4 linked regions of the Homo sapiens genome follow. The protein of the gene in region 1 interacts with the protein of each later gene in a pairwise test. Each region holds a gene or a part of one and is shown in the gene's direction. Other genes may lie near its edges. The genes, in order: PTPRN, PTPRT, TRDN and SNX19.

Region 1 (7,027 bases):
TCTTCACTTCTCTAATAAACTGCTTTCACTTTACTAAAACAAACAAACAAAAACTACCACAATAACTCAGATAAGAGATGAATGTGGATGGGGCCAAGGTGATTGCAGGGAAGGAATGAAGGATGAGAGAATTCTGCATTTATTTTTAAGGTAGTCAGCATTATTTCGTGAAATATTGGATATGGTTATAAAGAGAGGAGTCAAAGTTTTTTTGGGTTTATTTTGTTTGTTGATTGTTGTTGTTGTTGTTTGAGACAGAGTCTTGCTGTGTCACCCAGGCTGGAGTGCAGTGATGCAATCTCTTGCTCACTGGAACCTCCACCTCCCAGGTTCAAGTGATTCTCCTGCCTCAGCCTCCCGAGTAGCTGACATTACATGTGCGCGCCACCATGCCTGGCTAATTTTTGTATTTTTAATAGAGACAGGGTTTCACCATGTTGTCCAGGCTGGTCTTGAGCTCCTAACCTCAAGTGATCCATCTGCCTGGGCCTCCCAAAGTACTGGGATTACAGGTGTGAGCAACCGCGCTCAGCCAGGAGTCAAAGGTTTTATTTACTGAATAACTGAATCAGTGGAGATGTCACTAATTATAATGTGGAAACTTGCAAATGGTTCAACTTGGTGGGGGTGTTCAGCTTTGAATATGTTGAGTTTAAGATGTCTACTCAAGTGAAGCAGGAAGTTGAGTACATGAGACTGGATTCTGAGAGACAGAGTTCTCACCTGGAGATATAAATTTGGAATTCTTTGGCATATAGATGGTAATTACACCCATGAGGTGGATGAGATAACCAAAAGATTGAGTGTCTATTAAGAAGACCAAGGATCAAGTCCTAGATAATTCTTCTATTAAAAGGACCAGGCCAGGTATAGTGGCTCACACCTATAATCCCAATACTTTAGGAGGCTGGGGCAGGCAGGTCACGAGCTCAGGAGTTCGAGACCAGCCTGACCAACATGGTGAAACCTTGTCTCTACAAAAAATACAAAAATTAGCCAGGCATGGTGGCGAGCACCTGTAATCCCAGCTACTCAGGAGGCTGAGGCAGGAGAATCACTTGAACCTGAGAGGCAGAGGTTGTGGTGAGCCGAGATCGCACCACTGCACTCCAGCCTGGGTGATAGAGCGAGACTCCATCTCAAAAAAAAAAAAAAATGAGGACCAGGATAAAGAGAGGAACCATCAACTTCCTCTCAGGGAGACTGAGAAGGGGAAGCCAGTGGAGTAGGATTAAAAACAACAGTGTTCAGTGTCCCAGAAGCCAGGAGAAAGTGTATCAAGGAGGAGGAGTGACCAACAGTGTCAAATGATGATTACGGGATAAGTAAAATAAGATATGAAAATTGACCACTAGATTTGGACATGCAGACAAAGCTGCTCTTGATGAGAGCAGCTTTGGTAGAATAGTTGGGAATAAAATCCTGAATAAAGTGGATTAAGAGGGAATAGAAAGAAAGGAATTGGATACAGTCAGTATAGACAACTTTTTCTAGAAGTCTTGCTGCAAAGATATGGAGTGATCCCTAGAGAAGAAAGTGGGATCAAGCAGTATTTTTCTTAAGATGGAAGAAATTGCATATTGTTTGCATGGGAATAATGTGAATAATTCAGTAGAGAACAAAGGAAATTATGTAGGAAAGAAGAGAGAATTGCAAGGAGAATGTTCCTGAATAGGTGAGAGGGGATGAAATCTAGTGCTCAGAGGAACTGGCTTTAAATAGGAACACAGACAGCTCATCTAATGTGAATAAGCAAGGAGGCAGGTGTGGATGTTGGTAGATACCAGAATACAAGTTAAGAGCAGCACAGATTTTAAATCCAGAACTAGAGAAGAAAAAATGAGGGTGAAAAGTGGGAAATTATTCCTTTAGAATAAGTGACTGAACTTTCCTGAGAGCAGAGTTTTTTTGGGGGAAAGAGTCAAACAGGAGAGCTGTCTATGAATAAGATGATGATGATAATGGTGATGATGATGATGATGACGACAATGAAGATGATGATACATGTTTAAAACATGTGGATTATGCTTTAGAGTTTTCTAAGCACTTTGATTTCCCTGATCACACTTGATCTTCACAACAGCCCCCTGAAATATGTATCGTTTCCACTTTACAAACAGAGAAAGTTGAGGTTCAGGGTCAACACAAAGAATAATAACAATAGTAATAATAATTATGGTAATAGCATTTGTTAAAAGTTCACTACATGACAGGCACTATTCTAACCGTTTGATATGTATATGTGTTATTTTAATGATAATAACAATCCTAGGAGGTATAAATCCCCATTTTATTGATGAGGGAATTGAGGCTTGGAGAGGTTCAGCAACTTGCCCAAGGTTACATAATTCATCAGTAGCAAAGGCAGGATTCAAACCCAGGTGGTCTGGCTCCAATAGCTGTACCTGAGGGTGGGAAGAAGACAGCTCAGATCACCCACTGAGTTTGTCCCTCTACTCTGACAAACCCCATGAGCTGCAGGGCAGAGGGTACAGTTCTGATCCCCAGTGGTCCCCGTTACTGGATCCCCAGACTCCTGAACCAACTTACGCTGTCCTCTTTCCTGACAGGATTGTCCTGGCACGATGACCTCACCCAGTATGTGATCTCTCAGGAGATGGAGCGCATCCCCAGGCTTCGCCCCCCAGAGCCCCGTCCAAGGGACAGGTAGGCAGCCTTTCTCTACAACTCTAGCAATGGTGAGGCTGATGAATCTGTGGTTGTCCTAATTGATGGAGAGAAGGGGAAGGAAGTGGGCACCAAGGCCAGCATGCTGGGGCACAGGTAAAGAGGTGCAGGAATGGTCACTCTCTGACATGCTCACATGACCAAGAGGAGCTGAGCTCATCTCTAGGGATCCAGAAAAACGGGCATTTTTTGAATGTTTTGAAAAACATTGACATTGGCTACTTTAAAAGAAGCATCAATGTAGTCATCATGGGAGAAATTAGAATGCTGTTGGACTGAAGTTGTTCAATATTCCATTTCATTACTATGTGAATTTCTATATGACAGGAGCCACCATCATCTTTTTGTGGTTAGGGCCTCTAAAGGCATCATTCAGACTGCAAAGCAGAGGAAAGTAAATGAGGTTTAGGGAGCTCAGATGATGATACCAGGATGAAGATGGCATAGTGGTGGGGGGTGGAGGAGCAGTCCTGAATATTTGGACATATACTTGGAGAGCCAGGTGTGGGGACATGGCACACAGGGGCAACGGGGACAGCTGCAGCCACAGTTCATCTAGAGAAATTCCTGGTTGCCTTCCCCTGCTCCTGTTTGCCCCTTCTCCATCCCCAGCCTCATGATTACCCAGCCTTTGCAGTTGTTTCAGAGACTCAGCCATGCTCACCAGGGAGGCAGATACCTCTGCCCTCAGCTTGGCCCTCTGGTCCCTCCCCATTCCCACCCAGCCCATCTCTCTTCCCCTGAGGTCACTCAGTTTCTAAAGAGGTCAGGCCTGCTCTTAACCGCTGAGCCTGCCTGGCCCCGAATAGTTCTGCCTTGCAGGCTCTCTATGCCCTTTCCCCCGCTCCAACACACACACTTTGCTTTCCTCTACAGGTCTGGCTTGGCACCCAAGAGACCTGGTCCTGCTGGAGAGCTGCTTTTACAGGACATCCCCACTGGCTCCGCCCCTGCTGCCCAGCATCGGCTTCCACAACCACCAGTGGGCAAAGGTGGAGCTGGGGCCAGCTCCTCTCTGTCCCCTCTGCAGGCTGAGCTGCTCCCGCCTCTCTTGGAGCACCTGCTGCTGCCCCCACAGCCTCCCCACCCTTCACTGAGTTACGAACCTGCCTTGCTGCAGCCCTACCTGTTCCACCAGGTAAGTCCTTGACTCTGGTCCCACCCCAACCGCAGTCCCTCAGCCCGGACTTCTGCTCTTACCCAGATCTCTGGTTTTCCACAGTTTGGCTCCCGTGATGGCTCCAGGGTCTCAGAGGGCTCCCCAGGGATGGTCAGTGTCGGCCCCCTGCCCAAGGCTGAAGCCCCTGCCCTCTTCAGCAGAACTGCCTCCAAGGGCATATTTGGGGACCACCCTGGCCACTCCTACGGGGACCTTCCAGGGCCTTCACCTGCCCAGCTTTTTCAAGACTCTGGGCTGCTCTATCTGGCCCAGGAGTTGCCAGCACCCAGCAGGGCCAGGGTGCCAAGGCTGCCAGAGCAAGGGAGCAGCAGCCGGGCAGAGGACTCCCCAGAGGGCTATGAGAAGGAAGGACTAGGGGATCGTGGAGAGAAGCCTGCTTCCCCAGCTGTGCAGCCAGGTAACAAGGTCCTCAGCATCCACCTCCCTGTGAGGGCTGCTTTGGGGGAACCATGGTGGGGCCCTTCCCTGACAATCTATGCGTTTGTTAACTTGTCCTTAAAGTCATTCATACATTTAAGGAATGTCTACTGACAAGCTGTTCTATGCCAGGCACTAGGGAAGTGGTGGGGAGTGGAGTTGACGTGACTCTCCTTCCAGTGGAGAGTCAAGATGTCCTGAAGTTTGATCTGGGTCCCAGGAAGAACTTTCCCCCAAAGTGTGGACAAGGGCTGGGAAAGGGAGGGCATCTCTTGGTGTCCTGGTGTCTGGGAAGACTCTCTTAACATGCTAGTCCCTTCCCACCCTCACTCACTCATCTGCATCCCTCAAGTTCACTGCGCAATCAGCCCTAAGCTCTGTGTCTGGCTCCCAGCAGATGCGGCTCTGCAGAGGCTGGCCGCTGTGCTGGCGGGCTATGGGGTAGAGCTGCGTCAGCTGACCCCTGAGCAGCTCTCCACACTCCTGACCCTGCTGCAGCTACTGCCCAAGGGTGCAGGAAGAAATCCGGGTAAGTGTCCAGGCAGAGGGAGGGACCAATATCTCCCGGCTCCATGGAGGCCTCTTGCCCTGCCTCGAGACCACTTGGAGTAGCCTGGAGAGGAAGAGTCAGGCTTCAGGGGAAAGAGTTCCTTTGAGACATAGGGTCATTGCCAGCAAGGCAGGGAGCAAGGGGGTAGGGTGGCAAGCTTAGGAGTTAGATCAGGAAAAGACTAGATGGTGGAAGTAATGGAAAAAGCAGCCAACAGAGGGTGTGAGCAGGGAAAAGGAGGCATCGGGAAGGATGGGTTGGTGACAATGAGGGCCTAAAAACGGGCATAGCCAGTACTAAGAAGAAGCCAGTAATTGATGGGTAGAGAAATAACTGAACAAAGAATAGCTTTGAGAGAGATGGCCAATGGTAGAGGGAGGAGTTAATAAAACAGTAAATTGGGAGGAGGAAGCAAAAAGGAATGAGGCCAGGCTTAGGATGAGACCAGTAACAGGGTCTTGGTCACTGACTGAGATGAAGACCACAGCAAATGTTCCAGGCTCAGGGTCTCTGGCCCTTTCTCCCACTTGTGTTGTGTAGACCTTGGCCATGGCCATTTTTCCAGACTCTTGTTTTTCCTGTCTCGCAGGAGGGGTTGTAAATGTTGGAGCTGATATCAAGAAAGTGAGTCCCCAGCACCTCCTTGACTCATAATCACCCCATGGCAGCACGCCCCCTTGCCAAACCTAAATTTCAAATTCAGGACCTAGAATCTGTATCCTCCCACCCCTCATTTTGGGGGAAACCAAGGCCCAGAGACCGCAAGTTATTGCCTAAGGTCTCCCATCAAGTTGATGGCAGAACTGGAGCCAGAAAACTGAATTCTTAATTCATTCCTCTTTTCACTACAATCATTTCAGACCATGCTCTGAGGATTCCTAGGGGAGGAGGGAAGTTTCGAGCAGAGAGCCCTTCCTGAGCTTCTGTAGCAGGAGGAGCTCTGCTTCTTTCTGTTTCATGTGTTGGATTTCTAAGACTTTGTGGCTAAACAAAAGTCTAGAAACCATCGCCTGCCTGTTTGTCTTTTACCCTCACCCCAGCTTCTCTTGCTGCAGGGGTTTTCTGTCTCCAGCCCCATTCTGTGGATTAGTACAGACCATTTTCAATCATTCAATCCTTTATTCATTCATGCATCCACTTACTTGTCTCAGATGCTCTGGTGTCCTCTCTGTACCCAGCACTGCAGTGGTCCCTGGGGGTAGAAAGTGAAAAGCAGGTCCTGAGCTCCACTGTGGAGAGCTCCGAGTCCAGGGTACCCCTTCCCCCAGCACTGTCCAGAGGCCACACCTCCACCCTCTTCTGAACAGACAATGGAGGGGCCGGTGGAGGGCAGAGACACAGCAGAGCTTCCAGCCCGCACATCCCCCATGCCTGGACACCCCACTGCCAGCCCTACCTCCAGTGAAGTCCAGCAGGTGCCAAGCCCTGTCTCCTCTGAGCCTCCCAAAGCTGCCAGACCCCCTGTGACACCTGTCCTGCTAGAGAAGAAAAGCCCACTGGGCCAGAGCCAGCCCACGGTGGCAGGACAGCCCTCAGCCCGCCCAGCAGCAGAGGAATATGGCTACATCGTCACTGATCAGAAGTAAGGGCTGCATCCTGGGAAGCTTTCTGGTCTGCTAGGATTTGGGCTGGCCTGCCTGGCCAGAAGCAGAGGGCAGAAATCCAGACGTGCAGGGACAGGGAATTGGCAGGCTGCTCTGTACCCCTGGAGTGGCCTGTTTTAAGAAAGTGACTGAGAGGGTTGCCCCACTTTCCTTCCTCTGCCTTCTCCCATCTCCAGGCCCCTGAGCCTGGCTGCAGGAGTGAAGCTGCTGGAGATCCTGGCTGAGCATGTGCACATGTCCTCAGGCAGCTTCATCAACATCAGGTGGGGCTGGCATCTTGCTAGGGCAGTGGCCGAGATCTAGAAAGCAGCTTGAGCAAGGAGGTGGCTGGAGGGGCCTGCGGGAGGAAGAGCAGACAAGCTCTGAGCTCAGGGATGCTCCCAGCTGTACTGAAGGTACAGCCACACCCAGCCCGTTGCTGGCCCCACCCAGCATCTTCCTTGCCTAAGATGCCCCTGTAGGGCATCCCCGATCTGCTCCAGCCCCATCCTCTAACGGGGAGAGGGCCAGAGCTGGCCTCTTTTTTGAAGTCTGCGGTCTGGGGTGGAGAAGGCAGTAACATAGCTCCTATCTGGCAGTGTGGTGGGA
Region 2 (7,027 bases), on another chromosome or scaffold:
TAAATTTGTATACGAGGTGGCACTGGAATATTTAAGCTCCTTTTAGCTCAATGGGATGGGGAACCTGCCGGAGTCCAGAGGCTGCTGTGACCAAGCCCCCTTTTGTGTGAATGGCAGTAACTGGGCTCAGGAGCTCTGAGGTGGCACCCTGCCTGACTCCAAGGAGAAGACTGGTGGCCCTGTGTTCCACGGGGGGCTCTGCACCTTCTGAGGGGTCTCCTGTTGCCGTGGGAGATGCTGCTCCAAAAGGCCCAGGCTTCCTTTTCAACCTAACCAGCCACAGCCAAGGGCCCAAGCAGAAGTACACCCACAAGCAAGGCCTTGGATTTCTGGCTCCCAGACCACCTGCTTTTGTTCTGAGTTTGTGGATCTCTTGGCAAGCCAACTGTGCAGGTGCTGGGGAGTGGGAGGCTCCCCTGCCCTCCTTCTCCTTAGGAGTGGAGGAGATGTGTGTTCTGCTCCTCTACGTCATGGAAAAGATTGAGGCTCTTGGGGGTCACTGCTCTGCTGCCCCCTGCAACCTCCTTCAGGGGCCTCTGGCACCAGACATTTGCAGTCTGGACCAGTGTGACCTTACGATGTTCCCTAGGCCACAAGAGAGGCCCCCCATCCTCACACCTAACCTGCATGGGGCTTCGCCCACAACCATTCTGTACCCCTTCCCCAGCCTGGGCCTTGACCGTCCAGCATTCACTGGCCGGCCAGCTGTGTCCACAGCAGTTTTTGATAAAGGTGTTCTTTGCTTTTTTGTGTGGTCAGTGGGAGGGGGTGGAACTGCAGGGAACTTCTCTGCTCCTCCTTGTCTTTGTAAAAAGGGACCACCTCCCTGGGGCAGGGCTTGGGCTGACCTGTAGGATGTAACCCCTGTGTTTCTTTGGTGGTAGCTTTCTTTGGAAGAGACAAACAAGATAAGATTTGATTATTTTCCAAAGTGTATGTGAAAAGAAACTTTCTTTTGGAGGGTGTAAAATCTTAGTCTCTTATGTCAAAAAGAAGGGGGCGGGGGAGTTTGAGTATGTACCTCTAAGACAAATCTCTCGGGCCTTTTATTTTTTCCTGGCAATGTCCTTAAAAGCTCCCACCCTGGGACAGCATGCCACTGAGCAAGGAGAGATGGGTGAGCCTGAAGATGGTCCCTTTGGTTTCTGGGGCAAATAGAGCACCAGCTTTGTGCATAATTTGGATGTCCAAATTTGAACTCCTTCCTAAAGAAACCCAGCAGCCACCTTGAAAAAGGCCATTGTGGAGCCCATTATACTTTGATTTAAAATAGGCCAAGAGAATCAGGCCTGGAGATCTAGGGTCTTGTCCAAAGTGTGAGTGAGTCAATGAGAGGGAACCAACATTTGCTAAGTCTCTACTGTATGCCAGGGATCATGCTTGGCACTTTCCATAGGACATTTCACACAGTCCTTAGAACCCCCAGGAGAGAGCTACTGACTTGTTATCATCTCCATTTGATCATCTCCTCCAATGAGGAAACCCACGCACCTTCCTTAGTAATGAAATCCTGGGTTCCAAAGGGGCAGGTAATGGCAATGAGACTTCTCCGTGCTGTTTTCTTCATCTTCTCTAAGCCAAGCAATTATTTTATGGAGGGAAAATAAGGCCAGAAACTTCTGAGCAGATAACTCCACAAATGGAAATTTAGTACTTTCTTCCTGATGCCAGTTCTTCTGGGAAGCGCAGAATTTCAGATATATTTTAGTAACACATTCCCAGCTCCCCAGGAAAGCCAGTCTCATCTAATTTCTTAGTCAGTAAAAACAATTCCCTGTTCCTTCAGGCTATGAATGGACCAGCCAGGGAAACTCTCGACCTTGATCTCTAGCCAGTGCTTAGGCCCAATATCTGACAGCCTCAGGTGGGCTGGGACCTAGGAAGCTCCATCTTGAAGGCTGGTCTAGCCCCAGACAGGGCATGAGGGGCAGAGAATTCAAGAAGGTACAGCTTTGGCCCTCAAGAGCCCACTGTATGCTGGGGAAATGGAACCATGGTGCAGTAGTGTGGAGTGGATGAGTGTTCCATGAGCCTAGGAGCAAGAAAGTCTCTTCGGCCTCGGGCTTCCTGGAGAAGGGGACGTCCATTCCTGCTGGGTCTTAACAAGCATAAAAAGGAAAAAAAGGAAACTCAGGCAAAGGGATCCATATGTGCAATGGCAAAGAAATGTGAAAAGGCATTGGGAGAAGCAGTCTGGGGGAGGCCAGCCCAGTGCGGGCACAGCACAACACGGGGAGCAGCAAGAGATGAGCCAGGGTCCAGGAGACAGATGCCCATCGCGAGTACAGACTTTGTCCTATTGGCAACAAGGAGTCCATGGAGCTTTAGAGAGATGCACTCAGCTTCGTGTTGGCCAAGACTCCTTCTGGGCCAATGGGGCTGCCTCTTTTCCTTTCATCAGACACTGTGAAAACATTCCCTTAAGCGTGCACTTTTTAATATCACATCTATTTGTCTGTCTGCTCATTGTTTTGTTGCTGGAACTAAATATGCAATGGATCATGAGACTCAGATTCTATGAGAAACCCAGGGTCTCTGCTTTACCACGGAGCAGGGTCACCAACCCAGATCTCCAGGCCCATGAGGATGGAACATGAAAGGAGCCGACAAAAGTTGCTTCCATTGGCATGGGCTCTGGAGCTGTCCAGAAGTCCAGGGACACCAGACTTGATCAAGGAAGGGCTGTCACTTTAGAGGTTCAAAAGGAAGTGCCTCAAAGCAAAGGCAAGCAAAGGAACCCCACGATGAACTTGCTCTTTTCCTTTGATGAGCCTCTCCCCAGGTGTATTTCAGCAGACCCCGGGGACCCACCCCCACTGGGCCTGCTGGCCTCCCTCGGCTCCAGCCCAATGCCCCAGCTGGCCTTCCCCAGCCTGCAAGGAGCCTGTAGCATGGCAAATCTGCCTGCTGTATGCTATTTTCTTAGATCTTGGTACATCCAGACAGGATGAGGGTGGAGGGAGAGCTATTTAACACAAATCCTAAGATTTTTTTCTGCTCAGGAAGGGGTGAAATAGCTGGCAGATACAAAAGACAGTGGCTTTTATCATTTTAAATGGTAGGAATTTAAGGTGTGACTTCAGGGAGAAACAAACTTGCAAAAAAAAAAAATCTCAGGCCATGTTGGGGTAACCCAGCAAGGGCCAGTGATGATTTCCCCCAGCTCATCCCCTTATTTTCCCACAACCCAACCATTCTCTAAAGCAGGACAGTGAATAGGTCTTAGGCCAGTGCACACAGGAAGAAATTGAGGCTTATGGATGGGGATGACTTCCCTAAGATCCCATGGGACAAGGATGTGGCAAGGCTTGGATGAGATGGGGCACCAGTGCCCAGGAATTTGAACATTTTCCTTTACCCAGGAAATCTCCGGAGCCAACACCACCACCCCCAGGGGGTCTCCCCACCCCACCCCATTTACAGGGTGAGCTCAGCCTGTCATGAGCAGAGGAAAATATTATTAATGCTCTCTGAGTCTTTACAACAGGAGCTCTTACCTCATAGATGTGGGCTCTGTTTGGGGAAGATGCAAGGAAGTAATGAGAAGCCCAGGAAATTTCTCCACCTGTGTTTATGGCCTAAATAGCTTCAGGATGTATCTTAGCTGCACTCCAACATTGCATCCTTTCTGGGGTGAAGAATCTGGGCCAACCAGGGGTCCTTGGGCCTCTAGAAGGCCACAGTAGGCCTCTCTTTGTGGGAATGGAAGGGGACAGTTTGCTTTTAGTGCTGGCCCTCTCTGTGGGTGTGGCCTGCAAAGGAACCAACAGACCCTATGCTGGGGACTCTAACATGTGAGCTCATTAAATTCTTCCAGCATTCTAAAGGAGGGTTTGTGATTGTCACCATTTACTGATGAGGAAACTAAGGCTCCTAGGGGAGAAATCACTTGCCCACAGTTCCACAGCTAGTGAGTGAATGAACCAGGATTTAAACCGGTTTTTTCTCACTACAGAGACAATATTTTTCCACCATTGTATCTCACATTTTTCCCAGGAGGTTACCCATAACAGAAGAGACTAGAGTGGAACAGATACGTCAGTGGATAAAGCTCAAAGCAAACAACAGTAAGCTTAAAATTCCTTCATAGTCTCATGTTTTACGTTCACAATTCATGCAAAATTTGCATTCCACTTTCTGATTTAGCCTTGTTGGTTTTAATATGACTCTATGAATATTTCAAAAAAAAATGTGCTCTGTTCCTCATGTTGTTCTGTTCTGTTCACCCCGCTATGACGGACCCTAGGTCAGCTGGTCTTCAGCTTGACCCTAGAATTGACTCTAGGAGCAGTGACCCTGCTGCCTCCCAGAGCCAGTTATAGGCTCAAGATCAAGACCAACTGACCTTCTCCTAGGCAGCTCCTTTGGTGTGTGGGTGCTCTGACCTCACTGTTCATGAGGGGACCTCAACTAAGGCATCTTCCAGTTGGGTGCTGGAAGGAACCCATTAACTCACACTAGAATGATGAGGATTTGCTCATCTGGCGTGGAGAAGGATGAGCCCACAAAACCCTAAAGGGAAAAGAGAAGCTGGACACAGCTGTACTCAGCAGATTCCTGAATGCTAGGCTGGAAAGTGGTGCCTGTTGTCCAAGTGGAGTCACATGGTTGCTAATGTGGGCAAGTCTGAGGACACACTTCATGAGCAGCTGGGGTCTGGAAGGCTCCTCACTTTACCCTAGCCACACATAATTACTGGGTGCCTACAGCACCTAGCACCTTGGAGGGGGCACTATTAGGAAATCGAGATTACTATGGCACAATTAATTCCTGGGTAAGGCATGGGGTTGTGGTGGACAGAGCTCAGTCTTTAGTTTGAACGAAAACATACATACATGAAAAACATACATGAAAAAAGGACCCTCATCAACATTAGAAGGGGTAGATTTGGAGCACTTTAGGCAGGAAAACAGGAACGCAAGGCCAGGAAACTGGAACCCAGTGAATACTCAGAACCGAGGATGCAGATGACTTATTTAGCAAAATGGTCACTTCTGTGACATAGCTGGAGAAAGGATGGGTAACAGCTTGCCAGAGCCACTTGGAACAAGGGCAAATCTCAGTGTCTGGGGCAAAAGATGATGCATTTCCCTCTGACCCATCATGTTTATTCATCCTCCACTCCCCATTGCCACACTAGCTCTTGCTGTAAGTCCTCACCAGGATCTACATTTCCTCGTCGCTGGTGGGAACCCCTTAGAGTACATAGAGGTATCAGTCCAGTAAGACTGCTCTACACAACAGAAGTGAGGCCCAGGGAGTAGCAGCCAGGCCCTTATCCTGTTACCTCTGCAGGAGTGACTGCCCAACCCAGATCCAGAGACATTGAAGGAAATGATAATTCCTTGGTACCTCACTGCCTTGGGACAAAATGAAGAAAGCCACCCTTCCTTAGGCTGCAGCTTGCCACTCCTGGGCTGGGTAAACAGGTCATCAGCACCAAGCTCAACCAGGAGTAACACTCTGGAAGACATGGGTGAGCCCAAGAGGAAGCATGAACAGGACGCTGTTCCTAAGTCATGTCAACAGGTTGTGCTGGGCCAGGATCCCCAGGGAAAAAAATGGTCAACCCAACTGGAGGGTAGGTTAGAAGAAAAAAAACATAAACGTGGATAGTCATGTCATCTCAAATCCCTGACTTGGCTTCCCCATTACTTAACAGTCTGAGCTCCTTCTTAGCCTGTGACCAGCTTCAAATCACAGCCAAGTAAAACAAGGAAATAGGAAAAGTAAATCCAACTAGAAGAGACAAGCTGAGATTCAGATTTGTTTACTCCTCCCATGCAAAGTTTCCCTGTTGGAGGTTTTCCATGTATACATGTCTAGAAGTGATAGAATGCAAGGCCTTGGCTTTGTCTTGCAGGGATCTGCCTTTGAGGTCATAGACTGAACAGCAGGGAGAGAGGTTAGTGGTGGAGTGTGGGGGGAGCTGTTCTAGCTCCAGTTTCTTCTGACACATTTTTCAGGATCATGGATCTGATCCTCCGAAGCACAGCAGAGATATCTAAGCCATATTTGTGCACATGAGCAGACTCTTCTAGTTTTTTAGTAACCAGGGATGGGCTTTTGCATGGCACTGACTATAGAGATGTCTTGTAGAGATCAAGCCAGTCTTTTGCATCCCACCTGCCCACCTCCAGAAGAGATGGGAAAAGGTCATCAAAGGGCATTCACCAACTGAAATCCACTCATGAATGTTAGGTCTCTAAAAGGAGGCATCAACACTCACAATGGTAGCCTCCAAACCTAGCATCCCACCTATCTAAGAGCTCAGGGGTGGTCCACTGGGGCAGATACAAGGGAAGTGCAAGGGCTCAGGATGAAAGAAAATCTATTGGGAAGAGTTTTAGGGGCTTGATCATTATGGGGCTTCCTTCTATATCTGAGAACTGCTCTGGGTGGTGAGATGTGGACTCTGATCCTTAATTGGAATGTTCGGAGAATGAGTGTCTGGTGGCCTTGAAGTGTTGGACAGAAAAGTATCAGTATAAAAGCCTGGAGCTCAGGGTAATTAATGTAGTTCATGGTTCCTTAGTGAGCAGGACTCTTGGATGTGGAGGAGAAAGGGTCATAGGAAGTAAACCACCAAAATTACAAAATTGAGTCTCTGTACAATTACTTCAGTGCCTTTGGGCTTATGAATACAAATCAGTGGGCCTTCTCTATGATGGTCCAACAAACTCTCAGTGTCCACCCTGTCCCTGTATCTCCCATGGAAGATGAATAATGTCAGGTGTTCTTTGGGTCAAAGGCCCCAGGGCAGTCTGGAGGCTTAGAGGGCAGAGTGGTGTCATTCCATGTAAAGTTAGGCTTCTGAGGGGTCAGGCAGAATATGGTGTCCATATCTTCCATAGCTCTGCAGATTCTTGGATGAAGTCAAGCACAGTTTGCTAGACCCAGGTCACTCCTCTGAGTATAACTAGGACCCATGAGTGAAACTTAATAGCTGTAAGGAAGAACCTGCTGTCTGCCAGAGAGGATAAGCTGCCCATCTCAGCAGCTGTCTAAAAGAAGGCAGGTGTCTCTT
Region 3 (7,027 bases), on another chromosome or scaffold:
CCAGCAAGAATCTTGTTTCTCTCCAGTCCTCCCCCAGCTCAGAGCATTTCCTTCCTTCATTCTAGTTTCTCACACCAAAAACTTAGAAGTTATCCTGGAATTCTGTCTTTCTCTCACATCACAGCCACACTGGAAGCTTCTACTATTAATTCTGTCATTGAAATACATTCAGAATCTGATTGCATCTCACCACACACACTGTTACCACCCTGATAGAAATCATGATCATCTTTCTCTTGGATGATTTCAGTTGGCTTCATACTCATCTCCCTGTTCCCAGCCTGGCACCCTTTCAAACTTCAACACAGTAAAGGAAGTCAAATCACTTCATCTTTCTGCTCAAATCTTCCAATGACTTACTATGTTAGTCACAGTAAAAGCCTAATTAGATGTACTTAACCTTTAGGTAGTATAATACATTGATATAATTCTCATCTCTTAAATATATCAAAGAGAGAAAAATCTCTGAAAAGCTAAAATAGTTTTTAAAATTAAGGAAAACACAGCTCTAAAATTTAATTACAGCTTGATAAAAAATCAGATGCAATTTATACCATATTTCTAGATAGATCACCTCTGTAATCACATCCTAAAGGCTATGCTTGCCTCTTCAGAGCAGTTTTCATATGATTGGAAGAATAAAATTTTGGAAATCCCTAATATATTTGTTTGCATTTTTTTATGATTCAATCTTTCATTTAGCAAACATTTTATATCTCCTAGGACATAGAAAAGGGAAGACTTATAGATTCTATCCATTGAAGTTACTAGCAGTTCAAATACTTTTTTATTTCATGTACAGGGATGACTAAGATAAATCCAACCTATTCCAACTAGAGCTTGATATGATCACTAACTTGACTATTCCAGATTCTTCCTGTGGTATCACAAATTAGAATAAATGGGCCTATCAGTCTTAATTTAGCCACAACTACCTTAGTCAACTTGCAGAACTTGTTATTTGTCTGAAAACTTACAGAGTCATCTTTTCTATAATGCTGTCCCATACAATATGTGCTGAAATTATTTCTTCCATTCCTGAACATCCATAACATAGGGTTTATTTGCACTCTGGGTAACATAAATACACATTATTTTAATTCATTCCTAATTTTTTTTCCAGTGCTAACTCTTATTTGGATTATAAACTTCCCAAGGGCATTTTCTTTCTTGGCATGCATGCATATTATAGCAAGATGAAGTTTCTATTTCTGCGCAAAAAATTGTAGCCAGGAGATATTTAGAATGTTGAAATTGACATATTCTTTTTGTCAAAACAACAAATCAGTAAAAACAGCTTTTCTTAAGTTATTTGGAAATGATCACAAACTTTTTCTTTTTTTTTTTTTTTAATTACTTTTAGCAAGCTCTATTGCCAAGATTGGCTCAGATCCTTTAAAACTGGTACGTGATGCTATGGAGGAAACCACGGACTGGATCTATGGCTTCTTTTCTTTGTTATCTGACATCATCTCATCTGAAGATGAAGAAGATGATGATGGTGACGAAGATACTGATAAAGGTACAAAGAACATAGAGATATATCTAACTGCTAGGAGCAACATTAAATATGTATTATAGTGGCTTGCCTCAGTTTAAATTCAAATGAGCACTTGGGTCAAGCTAAACCAAAATGAATACACTTCTGACTGCTAAAAGCATATCAACAGGCTGCCAAACACAGTAAATTGTTCTTTATTTAATTTTCATCTTATAGCTTATCTACCATTATGGCAAAGATGTCAAAATTAAATGTTAATATTAATGTAGCATTACAGCAAAGGGAGTCTCATTATGCTCTGCTATAAAACCACAATACAAACTCACATTTATATGCTTCTTTGGAAAAAATAGTTATTTTTCAAGTTTATCTCTAGGAAGATTAAAATAAAAACAGTAAAACTAAAAATACATATAAGTGTTTTATACACATATGTCATATTTATAGTCAAATAGCAGAAAGCAATCTTACTAAAAGTACAATCAAAAGAGTAAATTTATTGGACCAAATGGTGGTGTAGAATAGAAGGACACATTCTAAATGTCCTAACAATTATGCAACTAACCTATGTGCTCTCTCATATATATTAATGAATAAAAGGAAATAGCCATCTCAAACCACATAAAAGCTGCCATTGAATGAGTATGAAAAGAACAAAGCACTGTGATTCCATCTATTAGATAACACTTTTTAGGGTCAGTCTTAGTCATCAGAAATCATGTATTCAGCCTTGACTACCAGGAAAGCTTTTATTATTAGAGTATTTTTATAACTTTTCCTGAAATTATATTTGTTTTGGCCCCAGTAAGAGTTCAACATGAACAATAGAGAGTTGAAATTAATATGATATATAACCTATAATGTATAATTTGGATCACTGCCACAATTTTATTGAATTCATAAAAATGAAACAATCTTATATAAATGTATATAAACAAACTTTATACTTAAAAACTGGAATTTGGGAAGCAAAGTAATGTAAAGACTATGATTGTTAAAACTAATAGATTTTTTTAAATAAACAAAAGGGGAAAATAATGATGTCATATTATTCTATGCTAAAATATTTTCTAACTTTGTTTTTCTTTTAATCTTGGTCTAGGAGAAATAGATGAGCCTCCCTTGAGAAAAAAAGGTTAGTTGTTTTCACCTTTGATAATAATTATTTTTCTCTTATGGTAATATTGGTTTTCAGCATGGTTCAAATATATTTTACTTATTTTAATATAAAGGTTTTGTTTAATAATTAGGTCAAGATTTATAGTCAGAAAAAAAATACTCAATTTCTTTTCCAATGAAGGTGATCTCACTACTTTTCTGTTGATTATTTTTTAAATGCCTTATTCAGTAGATTTGTATGGATTCATTTATACACAGACCAATATGAGCTGGAATTTGAGGAATGAGGGGAGAATTCTGTAGCCTTAGAAATGGCCCAGAAAATGACACCCATGATTTATTCTCACCATGGTCAGATTTATTGATTTTAAATGTTTATTCTTATTCTTTTCCTTTTATTTTTTTTGCCATCATTATTTTGCATGTTAGGTGATGACTATGGGCCAGGACAACAAGACGGTGAGGGACATAACAGCCTAGGAGGCAAAGGCATATCCAGTTGGTATGTGTGATGTGTCACTGTCATGGAGTGGAGTTACCTGGATGTGCCTGGATGTGCTGTAGAGGAATTACTTGCAGGAATAGATAAGGTGACTGAGTGAAGTGGTCACAACCTGAATGATAAGAACGATAAACCTAGGACAAAGGAGGACAGCAATGGGGCAGGAATTTCAGAAGACAGAGATTTTGACAGGAAGGGGTAGGAACTGCATCTGGAAGGGGCACTGGGGAGCAGGTAGTACCATCTTGAGGTACATTTGTTGTGAGAAAACAGCCAACATTCAAGCCAGACTTAAAACAATTGCAGTGTTTTAGTTACTGCTACACATGGGCAGGCTGTTGAGGGTTTACCCAGGAAGATAACCCTGGCTTCTGTTGCTCTCTCCTAATACCTACTGTGGATTCAAACAATGGGATCCAAACTTACAGTTTCAGCCTTCCCTGAGAAAATGATGACTACCCCACACTATCTGGGGTAAAATCCACTTAGTGTATGTTAAATTAGAAACTTTGGATTTGTAACTTACACAGCAAAAAAGAGCTAAGCCAGTCAAACTCAACTATGGCAAAGGCATCCAGAAATGAAAGTGTTTATAAAGCTCTGTGAGGAGAAAGGAAGGGTTTATACACCTGCAAATCCAGAATGAGAACTCAAGTACTCAAGACAGACTTCAGCCATCAAATCCAGGTTTAGAGATTCTAGATTTGTCTATAAACTTCAAGAGATTTATAGCTGATTTCCCATAGAGAGTGAACATAGTCAAGCTTTAAGTGAGTTATTAGTCATTATCTGGAAATAACAGCTTATGCACGTTTATTTTCATTGGAAATGGAAGAAGGGAAAACAGATAAATAATGTTTGCTCATTTATACTTATAAACTGAATTCCATAAGACTATTATAAAGCCATGTTTTTCATAAATTGATATTTACTATTTAATAAAAAATCTTTTCTTTTGATTTAAATTTTTCTTTGAAATTATTTTAAAATTAAGCTTCATATAGTAATTAGTATAAACTGCAAATTCATACAAAGCTGTTTTACTATTGTTTCTTAAATTATTTCCTTGATTCAGCAAATCAAATTTTTGCCAGAAAAACTATTAAATAGTTGTTTAGGGTACTTTTAAAAAATGTTAGAAATGTTTATTAGTCAAAAATAGTCTAAGGGATATATGTCCTTCAACACATGTGCACTAATGTCCTTAAAGATTACATACTCAGAATTAGGAGAATTGACTTTAAATCACCTGAATATATTTTCTTAATAGTATTATTCACACAGTTACATGAAAAAAATTGACATTTAAGTAAAAATCTCAGATGCTCTATCTTGGGTACAGAGGCTATGTAATAATAAACCTTAGTTGAAAGTGAATTCAAGAAGATCTATTTCATTGTAATTATTATTTTTTATGTGTAAGCTTTTCTTTCATGGAAGTATAGAGGCAATGAGAGCTTTAAAGCAGTAGGTAATATTTTATAAAACATTTATAATACATATTCTACATTTTAAGTATACTTTTAACATTATTATTGGGGAGAAATTCTATAAATTATTCTTGTCTTATAAGTTATTTTACTCATGTTTACATTTACAAATGTTGGTTTAAGAAGGAATTTGGGGGCAATGTAGAATGATAGTCTTTTAAAACATTTGATTTTTACACATCTAAATGACTCTTCATTAATACCCTTCTCAATTCATATATATTCAATAATATTTAGTCATTTTTTATTGCCTAAATTATCAGGCTGTAGCATTTTTTTATTCAACTGCCCTATATCTACCTAAAACATTTTATTTGAATACACTTAGTTTTATTTGTTGAGTTACTGCTATTCTTAACAAAATAAAAATTCAGCCAGTTTGTTATTTATGGTTGAAGTTTGCAGTTTTTAATTTGGTATGGAATAATGGTGTAGTCGACTAATCTCAGGGTTGCAGTATTGATTATTAAACAGATTATTAATATGGATGAAATATTTGATTCTGCTAGCCTGTGGAATCTGTTGTTATATATAAATATAGCTTCAGGGTATTACATGTAGTACCTAGTGTCTTTATATTCTTCATGCATATTTTTCAACTTGTCAAAATTTTAAAATACTAAGTTCTATTACTAAACACTTCATGATGAGACCCCAAGGCACTGAATCTTTAGAAAATACTATATTTTATTACATAGTTGTCTAAAAATTATAAGTATGAAAACCAAATACTGTTATAAATCACATTTTCGGAAAAAATTATTTGTTGTGTATAGTGGTATACTTTGCACATCTGGAAGTGTGCTTTTAAGCAATATTTTTCACACCAGGGTATACATCATGGATCTGTTAGCACCTCACTTTCTAAGGGGTATAAAACTGCAGAGAGATTTAAAGGAATTGAATGTCATTTGAATGTTTTCCTAAAATTGATCTGCTTGAGAGCATGCCCGGTTTATAACCGTACTATTTCCACTTCAAATATAAATAAATCTGTTGTTGGTTCTTTGTGGTATTCAACGTTACTTGGAAGGAGACAAAAAAATTAAGTAACATTGCCCCAATAAGACTGTGTGTGTGTGTGTGTGTGTGTGTGTGTGTGTGTGTGTGTGTGTGTATGTACAGATGTGCATAAGGCTTCTCAATACTTGTATCTTTAAAAGTAAAATATAGGGTTAGATTTATTGATGAACGCTGTCTCATTCTAACTGTAAAATACATTAATCCACAGATAGGTGATTTTAAAGCTCCATTCATTCGATGGCATTCTAAAAAAAATTCATTTTTCAGGTTTAATAATAACTTATGAAGATTTGCAATATATTAACCTTTAGATTCTTAGATTCTTATAGTCTAAAGGTTAATATATTACAGGATGTGAAATCACAGAATATGGAGGAAATTTAAAATTTTCAATATGTACACTTTTTTCCTTAGAGAATCATAATGTAGCTCTTGGGTAAAATTTTCGTGAGAGAGGTGGAATGAAAATATGAATTCAAAGAGAAAAGAGAAAGATGAAAACCTTCCAAATGTTAAGAAATAATTTTTTGATAAATATTTTAAGTTGATAATGACATCTAAAAATATTATAGTGTTTGGAGTCCATCAACTCAGTTTTTAAAAGGGATATGGCAACTTTATTTTTAAATGTCAACATTTACAATAATCTATAAATTATATCACTTGTAATCCTTCAACTTATGATGAAAAATTTTAGAACTTGTAGGAAGGGATGCAGAGTTTTGCAAAATTTCTAAGAAATATAAAAGGGAAAAAATTGAGCATGATTGTAATAGAAAATAAACATTTTGCTTTCTGGGTAACTCCTAGGTTTCTGAGTGAGAGCAAAGCACAGAGGTCTAAGATTCACGACGGTACAATGTATATCCTTAGCTAATCACTAATACAGAATTCGGACATGTTTTATGCCTTCTGGGATTAAACTCAATCAACAAATGTATTTTTTTCAATTAATCTTTTTCAAGTGTTTTCTATGAGCCAAGCAATGAGCTGGTGGAAGAGAACATGTACTATTTGCTTACCACATTCCCAAAGACTAATGATGAACATTTATTAAATAAAATAGTAAATGACAGTAATGGAGTTTTGATGTGGTATTGCTAGCATCAGGATCAATGCAACATGTTATTTTATAGCTTACGTAATTGCAAAGGTGTAAAAGATCACCTTACTTAGTAAAATGTCCTGCAAATACCACAGTTAAAAATTTAATGAATACATGATCAAATAAGGCAGTAAATAAGCTAGAATAGTTGGGGCATTGTATATTTGATAAAGAAGAGGGTAAATCTTTATATGATGTTATTAATAAATTGAACTGAAAGCATATGAAAATGTGAATAATAGTAATGATATCTATTTTTTAGAAATATAAATTTTAATTCCCTTAAT
Region 4 (7,027 bases), on another chromosome or scaffold:
AAGACCTTCCTTGATCTGCTCAACACAGCTGCATCATGACATAGCATTTTAGAAAGTAACATTATGACATTTTCAAGTAAGACGGAATGGAAGTAATTAGAAATGCATATGGGTGAACACACAGACACACACTCATTATAGGCAAATTGTAGAAGTACAGATGTCTGGTCATAAAATAACTGAGACTAGCCTCAAAGGACTGGTATAACTTTGTTAACATTTTCCTGCCTTTTTGTTCTAATTCTGGATGCCCCTATGCCATGCACCTTTCTCACATTTAAGTGTTGGCTTCTGGTTATTTCATCTTTTTTTAATGACTATTCCAATACTGACATAAAACAGCAGGTTTTTTCCCTCCTCATTAGCAGAAAAATTAAGTTGATGGATAGAATGTTTAAGTTCCCAGTCTTTCTCCCATTATTTGTTCTTTTTTGTTGTTGGCTAGATTTTGACATCTGCTACTGCTTCAATTAAGCATTAGAAAAGAGTAAAGTAAAAAATGAGAACGAAATAATATAGCCAATTATGAGTAGTTTGAAATTGGGTTTAGATTTTTATATGGACATATAACTGATTTTAAATTGTATATCAATATTATTATACTTTCTGATAGTAAATAGTTTTCGGTTTATGTGATGGAAGTAACCATAACGGTGTTGAAAATTGGCCCTCGAGGAGCAGCATATTCCACAGAAAGCCTCATAGTTCCAAATGCTCCAGGCTTGAGAGCCCCACCCTGAATGCCACCTGTTGCTCTTACTTGGTCTTTCCTTCTCAGTGCTGTTCTGAGGGACTGCTTTGCTCACATCAGCTCATAATGAATACCCTGTCTCCAGAAAATTGTAAAGCACCAGCCACAACTCCCACCAACGAGGAGGTAGTTTTTTCCACCTCTTGCCCACAGTATACCTCAACCGAAAAATAATAGCCCATTCCTAATGAGAAGGCGCACATATATACTTCTCCCACAGCGTTTCATTGTGTCTTAACTACCCTGTCAAGAAGTGTGCCCCCATGCTGAGTTGCAGATTCCATGCCATCCGTGGTATTCACTCTTTGGGGAACATGAGATATAAGTCGTCTTTTCCACATACCAGCCCTCTAAGCTTAGGAAGACAGTGGACTTTGACCCCTTATCACATCTCCAATTTTCATGTGACTTCTGTGATACAGATGATACGTACTTAGGAAAAATTCAGTTTAGCTCTAAGAATAACAATTAGGAAAATTAATCTGCGTGAAACAAAACAAATACCCTTTAATTTATTCCAGATAAACAAATGATTTATATCTGCTGTTTGGATTACTTCTTCTTCCCTTAACTAATATAAATAATCACGGGAGAGTATAATGGAAAAATGGTTTGCCCCTTATGATGTTTAGCCCTGTAATTTAAAGGTGATAGAGGCAGTATCATTTTTATGGATGTTATGCCTTCTATTCAAATATTCATTTGAAAAACAGTTATGTAGCCATTTTTATAAGTCAAGAAAGTATCTGGGAGAGGGAGCTTTCAGATGAAAGTAGTAGTGCGGAGGAGTGAAACTCATTTCTGACTTTCTAAGCAATTAGATATAGGAGGTTCTGGAACAGAATAGGAACATACTCCCTCCCTTTGTTCTTAGTTTCGTACTCTTGCTATGTGGCCATTGACCAAGTAGTCAGTAAAGCCAGAATAGAAGATTGCTGAAACCCGGCTGATTGAGTCAATCAATTTGTTCGTTGAACAGTACGAGACAGCCCTTGACGGTGAAAACAGCAGCGGCCTGCAGCAGCTGGCCTACCACACTGTGAATCGTCGCTATCGGGAGTTCTTGAATCTGCAGACCCGTCTGGAGGAGAAACCAGATCTACGAAAGTTCATCAAAAGTCAGGAGTTTCCCCAACCCCTACTGCCCGCTTGCTTCCCACGTCGAGCCACGCTGATTGGCCTGTTGGTTTATGGGAGGGATCGGGGAGGAGAATGCCGTTTCAAGGTTCTCTGCTCCCTGGATTTGCTTCAGGAGTTTTGAAGTTTAGTGCTGGACAGCAGCAATCACATTCTTTCAGAGGTAGTCCTTTACTGCCAACTGCTTTGTTCTGGAGCCCCATCTAGTTTAAGATTAAAAAATAAGTGTTCACATTTCCACCTGTGCCTGTAAGTTGGTGTGAGGAGTTAAATTAACTTTTCCAGATTCATAGATTGGTGGTTCTTAAATATTAAAATATTACACAGAAGTTGTTGCCACCTTCTTTCCTTAACACCCAGATCTTTTGTGTGCTGTTATGACAACTCTCAGGCATGGGGAACCTTTTTTTTTTTTTTTTGACATGGAGTCTCGCTCTGTCCCCCATGCTGGAGTGCAATGGTGCAATCTCGGCTCACTGCAACCTCCGCCTCCCAGGTTCAGGCGATTCTCCTGCCTCAGCCTCCAGAGTAGCTAGGATTACAGGCGCCCGCCACCACGCCTGGCTAATTTTTGTATTTTTAGTAGAGATGGGGTTTCACCATGTTGGTCAGGCTGGTCTTGAACTCCTGACCTCAAGCAATCTACCCACCTCGGCCTCCTAAAGTGCTGGGATTACAGATGTGAGCTACTACGCCCAGCCAAATATTTTTTAATGTAATAAAATTTCACTCTTAAGGATTAGTAACTGGTTACTTTGTTTTTTAAAAATGATTACCCAAATAGTTGAATAAGTTTGGGCATAAATTATGTATTTTCTTTCTTAACACAATAGCTAATACTGAGCCAAGCTTGAAAATATGCGCCAGGTTCTCTCCTAAGCACTTTACACGTATTAGCTCTTTTAATGCTCCCGTCAGCCTGTGAGATAGGTGCCCTCATTATCCTCATCTTGTAGAAGAGAAACAGAGTCAGAAAGATAACACAAATGGCCTAAGATCATCATTATAGTAGGGATTGAGCCCAGATTTAAACTTGGGTCTCTGGACTTCAGAGCCCTCTCTTGTAACAATTTAGTGTTATATGGATCATATGGATCGTATGTATATTTGGAAGTCCTGAAATTGTTTTTTTTAATCCAAGGAAATATATTCAATAGTTCTGTTTTCTTTATATGTTTTATATGGAATAGCTCTCTGTGAATGTTAAATGAGTGAATATTTTGATTTTTTTTTTTTTTGGAAGATGTGAAGGGTCCTAAAAAGCTCTTTCCAGATCTTCCATTGGGAAACATGGACAGTGACAGAGTAGAAGCCCGTAAGAGCCTCCTAGAATCATTCCTAAAGGTCAGCATCCTTCTCTTTTGGCCTTGTTCTCACTTTAACCTGGGTGTCTAACCCCAGAACACCCAAGCCAAGGTGGAGAGATTTGGGGACTGGAATTTCTCTTTAAAATGTGTGTGTGTTTTACTTTTGCAGCAACTCTGTGCCATTCCGGAGATCGCTAACAGTGAGGAGGTGCAGGAGTTCCTTGCTCTGAACACAGATGCTCGTATTGCCTTTGTCAAGAAACCATTTATGGTCTCTAGAATAGACAAGGTACCAGCAGGGCCACTGTGCTCAGCTTTAGTTTTGATCTATAAATGGGGAGGATTCATCAGAATGGAGGCAGTCCTTGAAAAATAAGAGCAGTAGGGTGTGGGAAGGGGCAGCACAGAGCCGTCAATAGAACATGGACTTAAATTGTCAAGACCTGTTGCCAAATATTGGTTGAATCATCAGCTTGCTGAATCACAGGAAACAGCTGCTGGGAAACAGTACCCCAACACTCTTAAGTGTACACATATCTCCTGGGGGTATCATTATATTGTTGTACTGTTGGAGGCATGTGAAGATTGATCTGTGTCTTCACAGATAGCTGGCATGAGGGGTGGTCTTTCAGAGGGTAAAGTTCATTTCCAGTGTTGGGTCACCCAGGAAAGAGAGCCTAAGACGACCTGAGGCTGGATTTAGAGTGGTGTCATGGTTCTCCGCTAGAGAACAGAGTATGGAGAGAATTGTATCTTTTTCAAGAGGTTATCTCAGCACCTATGGAGATGGTGGAAGAAGGACATTTGTGTAACATGTCAGAGCTTGTAAGCAGTGATTACCAACTGATATGAGCATCTCTGGGGCAGAAGTCTGAGGCTTATGTTTATCAAAAGTGATGTGTGTTTTATAGGGTTGGGAAACACTGACACATTGGCGGAAGAGTAGCCTCCCTCTTCTCATCTAGGCTTGGAGCAACAAATAAAATAGAATTTCATGTAGTAGGTGTTAGGGGATATCCACTGCTATGGAAAAAACTACAAACTAAAAAGGGATCAACTGGGTAAATGCCCAGAGTTCCATGCAGATATCATTCATCCATTATTTCCACATCTACTTACTGGATGCCTGTTTTCAGCCAGACACTCTACCAGCTGCTGTTCATACATCAGTGAATGAGACAGATGAGGACCTCCCCACCCTCACAGACTACAGTTCTGTGATCCTGGAGAACAAGTTGTATTTTCTAAGCTGCATTATCTAAATGCATGCATCCTCAAGTGTTCTTTCCCTGGTTTGTTCTCCCCCAGTCTTTACTGTAGTCTGCTGACCACTCTCTTCAGCCTTGTCTTGGCTATGCTAGCTTACTCCTTATGGAGGAATACCACAAGAATGAGTCAAAGAAGGCATGGTGCTGCTCTGAGCCAGCAGTGTTAGTTAGCAAGAAGCACCAGAGGAAGAGTAAATGTTTCGTTCTGTTTCTTTGATAGTTTAAGGTTTTGTTTGTACATTGTCCTTTTTAGCAAATATCTGTATGTCATTTTGCCATTCTGAAGAAATGGAGTTAATCTTTAGTGAGGATTATTTTATTTGGTCTTGTATGAGTAGATAAGTTATAACAACTCAACTCCAGATATCTTAGTTTTGACCTGAGTGATCTTTGTTATTCTTTCTGTACCTAAAGAAGAGAAATTGTTTGAATTGACTAGAAAAACTGATTGTTTGCTCTGTGTAAGTTACTCTAAGCATGTTAATATTACTATGCCCCTTAACTGTTATTTTTATTTTTGATCATCTTCTTCACTTTTCCTTTCTCTTTATACTCCTACCTATGTACTTCCACTGATGCACATCTTGATGAAGGTGTTACCGATTTGGAAACTAGAAATCACCTTTTTACTTAAAAAGAAAGAAATTGAAAAATACATCACCAGCCCGCAGAACTCAGGTTTTTATTTCTCTCACTATTGGTTTTGGCTTCTTTTCCCATGGCGTTGTTTGTTTTACTCCTCAAGGAAAAAGATTTTTATGGCCATGGAAAAAAGGAAAGATAGTTGGCACTAAGTCATTAGCTGGTATTCGACCTTCCTACTGGATAAGGCTTTGCTAGATAGCCTGGCCCCTCTCCTTGTCCTGTTGCATAAAGTGCTGTGAGGCGACTGCTTGCTTGGCGGTTTCCATCTGTGGATGTGGATGGACTGACCCTGCACCTCTGACCCCTGCAGATGGTGGTGAGTGCCATTGTGGACACCTTGAAGACAGCGTTTCCTCGCTCTGAACCCCAGAGCCCCACAGAGGAGCTGAGTGAGGCCGAGACCGAAAGCAAGCCCCAGACAGAAGGCAAGAAGGCTAGCAAGTGAGAAGCCCTCAGTTACCCAGGGACCTTTCCCCAGTTCTCAAATTGATCCCCAATCCTCAGCCAACACTCACCCTATTCTCAAGCCCTAGAGGAAAGGAGGTGGGTCAGACATACCAGTTTTTAGGCAAAGCTAGACCCCAGGCTCCTCAGTTTTCCACCCGGAGGAGCCTGCGGTGCTGCAGAGGCAGCACTGCTGAATGTTTGGTTTTGCCATGGGAACCTGGGGCCCAACTGACCAGGGATGTTTGACTAGGAAGAATATTCTCTTTTGACTAGGATATTCTCTTTCCTCTTTTCCTGGAAAATTGAGATGTTTCTTTCCTACTAAGAATTAAGGCTTATAACTGATCTCTGTTTGCCATCATTTCTGGAAATCTTGGCTCAGAAGTTGCATATATTAGCAATAAAGAGGAAAGGGTTAGAATGGAAACCTGCAGGGCCTATTTTAGTAACTGGTTGACTACTGCTACTCTTTCCTGCACTAGGGCCCTAGCTGTTCCCTGGCAGCATTCAAAGCCAACATGTGGCAAGCAAGGGCACCACATGTACCCTTACTGGAAATTTCATCTATATCTGGGTCCTTATGAAAAAAGAGAGAGCATGTGTGTATGTGTGTGTGTCTCTGTCTCTGTGCTTATGTTTCATGGGCCAGCAATAACAGACTCACAGTACCTAACCTTTTCTTAACTGGGCCCATATATTGAGGGATGACCATGATACCTCTGCTTATGAGTCTCTGTCCCTTGAAACATTGATGTTATCACTTGCAGTTCCTTTTCTGGTTTTATTTGGAACACAAGGGGAAAAAATGGATGTCCAAAAAGGATACACCATGAATAGCAATAATGAAAACTTGCTCTATGCCACCTGTCTGTTTAATCTTCAGCAAATTTTTAATGAGTGCCTATTATGTGTTAGCTAATCTATCCTGTGGGAATATAACCATAATACACACTGATGCCAGTTTTACTTAGCAGAAACCATTTCACAAGTGCACTGTAGACATAGCTTAGTGTATGCGTTAACATTATCTATCAAGAATTGCCAGAATATACATTGTTTGGGGGATTGCAGGGCCGAGTCTTTCCTGGCAGCTCTGACCACAGTAAGCTCCCCAGAATAAGTATGGATATTCTTGTTGTGTTTTATTATCAGTACTTGCCAGCCCTTAGTGTGAGGCTCAAGGCCATAAATTACAACCTGTTTCTGCTCTTTGTTTCTGTACCAGGTCTAGGCTGAGGTTCTCATCCAGTAAAATTTCTCCAGCACTAAGTGTGACTGAAGCACAAGACAAGATTCTTTATTGTCTCCAGGAAGGCAATGTGGTAAGAACCAAAACCCAGAGAATGTGAGGCAAAAATATCTGAGATGTTGGTCCTGCAGTTACAGGTAGTTGAGATATTCTCTGAAGTCAGAAATGTCCTGCTAAATGACTTAATCAACGTTTGGATCTCCAGCTTTTATGCTAAAAGTAT

The links.
Region 2: the proteins of PTPRN (region 1) and PTPRT interact in binary tests that used the Homo sapiens proteins (3 or more experiments, as listed by UniProt).
Region 3: the proteins of PTPRN (region 1) and TRDN interact in binary tests that used the Homo sapiens proteins (3 or more experiments, as listed by UniProt).
Region 4: the proteins of PTPRN (region 1) and SNX19 interact in binary tests that used the Homo sapiens proteins (3 or more experiments, as listed by UniProt).

The regions. Positions count from the first base shown.
Region 1 is NC_000002.12:219,299,375-219,306,401, reverse strand, and holds part of PTPRN (receptor-type tyrosine-protein phosphatase-like N isoform 1 precursor), read left to right. Parts: intron 1-2,570; coding exon 2,571-2,667; intron 2,668-3,564; coding exon 3,565-3,826; intron 3,827-3,910; coding exon 3,911-4,265; intron 4,266-4,682; coding exon 4,683-4,814; intron 4,815-5,424; coding exon 5,425-5,459; intron 5,460-6,142; coding exon 6,143-6,417; intron 6,418-6,615; coding exon 6,616-6,702; intron 6,703-7,017; coding exon 7,018-7,027. UniProt on the Homo sapiens protein: Plays a role in vesicle-mediated secretory processes. Required for normal accumulation of secretory vesicles in hippocampus, pituitary and pancreatic islets.
Region 2 is NC_000020.11:42,073,898-42,080,924, reverse strand, and holds part of PTPRT (receptor-type tyrosine-protein phosphatase T isoform 2 precursor), read left to right. Parts: coding exon 1-46; 3' UTR 47-7,027. UniProt on the Homo sapiens protein: May be involved in both signal transduction and cellular adhesion in the CNS.
Region 3 is NC_000006.12:123,542,949-123,549,975, reverse strand, and holds part of TRDN (triadin), read left to right. Parts: intron 1-1,363; coding exon 1,364-1,522; intron 1,523-2,603; coding exon 2,604-2,636; intron 2,637-7,027. UniProt on the Homo sapiens protein: Contributes to the regulation of lumenal Ca2+ release via the sarcoplasmic reticulum calcium release channels RYR1 and RYR2, a key step in triggering skeletal and heart muscle contraction.
Region 4 is NC_000011.10:130,906,475-130,913,501, reverse strand, and holds part of SNX19 (sorting nexin-19), read left to right. Parts: intron 1-1,730; coding exon 1,731-1,869; exon of another isoform or gene 1,870-1,963; coding exon of another isoform or gene 1,964-2,051; intron 2,052-3,131; coding exon 3,132-3,232; intron 3,233-3,364; coding exon 3,365-3,484; intron 3,485-5,056; exon of another isoform or gene 5,057-5,141; intron 5,142-5,418; coding exon 5,419-5,549; intron 5,550-6,780; coding exon 6,781-6,877; intron 6,878-7,027. UniProt on the Homo sapiens protein: Plays a role in intracellular vesicle trafficking and exocytosis. May play a role in maintaining insulin-containing dense core vesicles in pancreatic beta-cells and in preventing their degradation. May play a role in insulin secretion.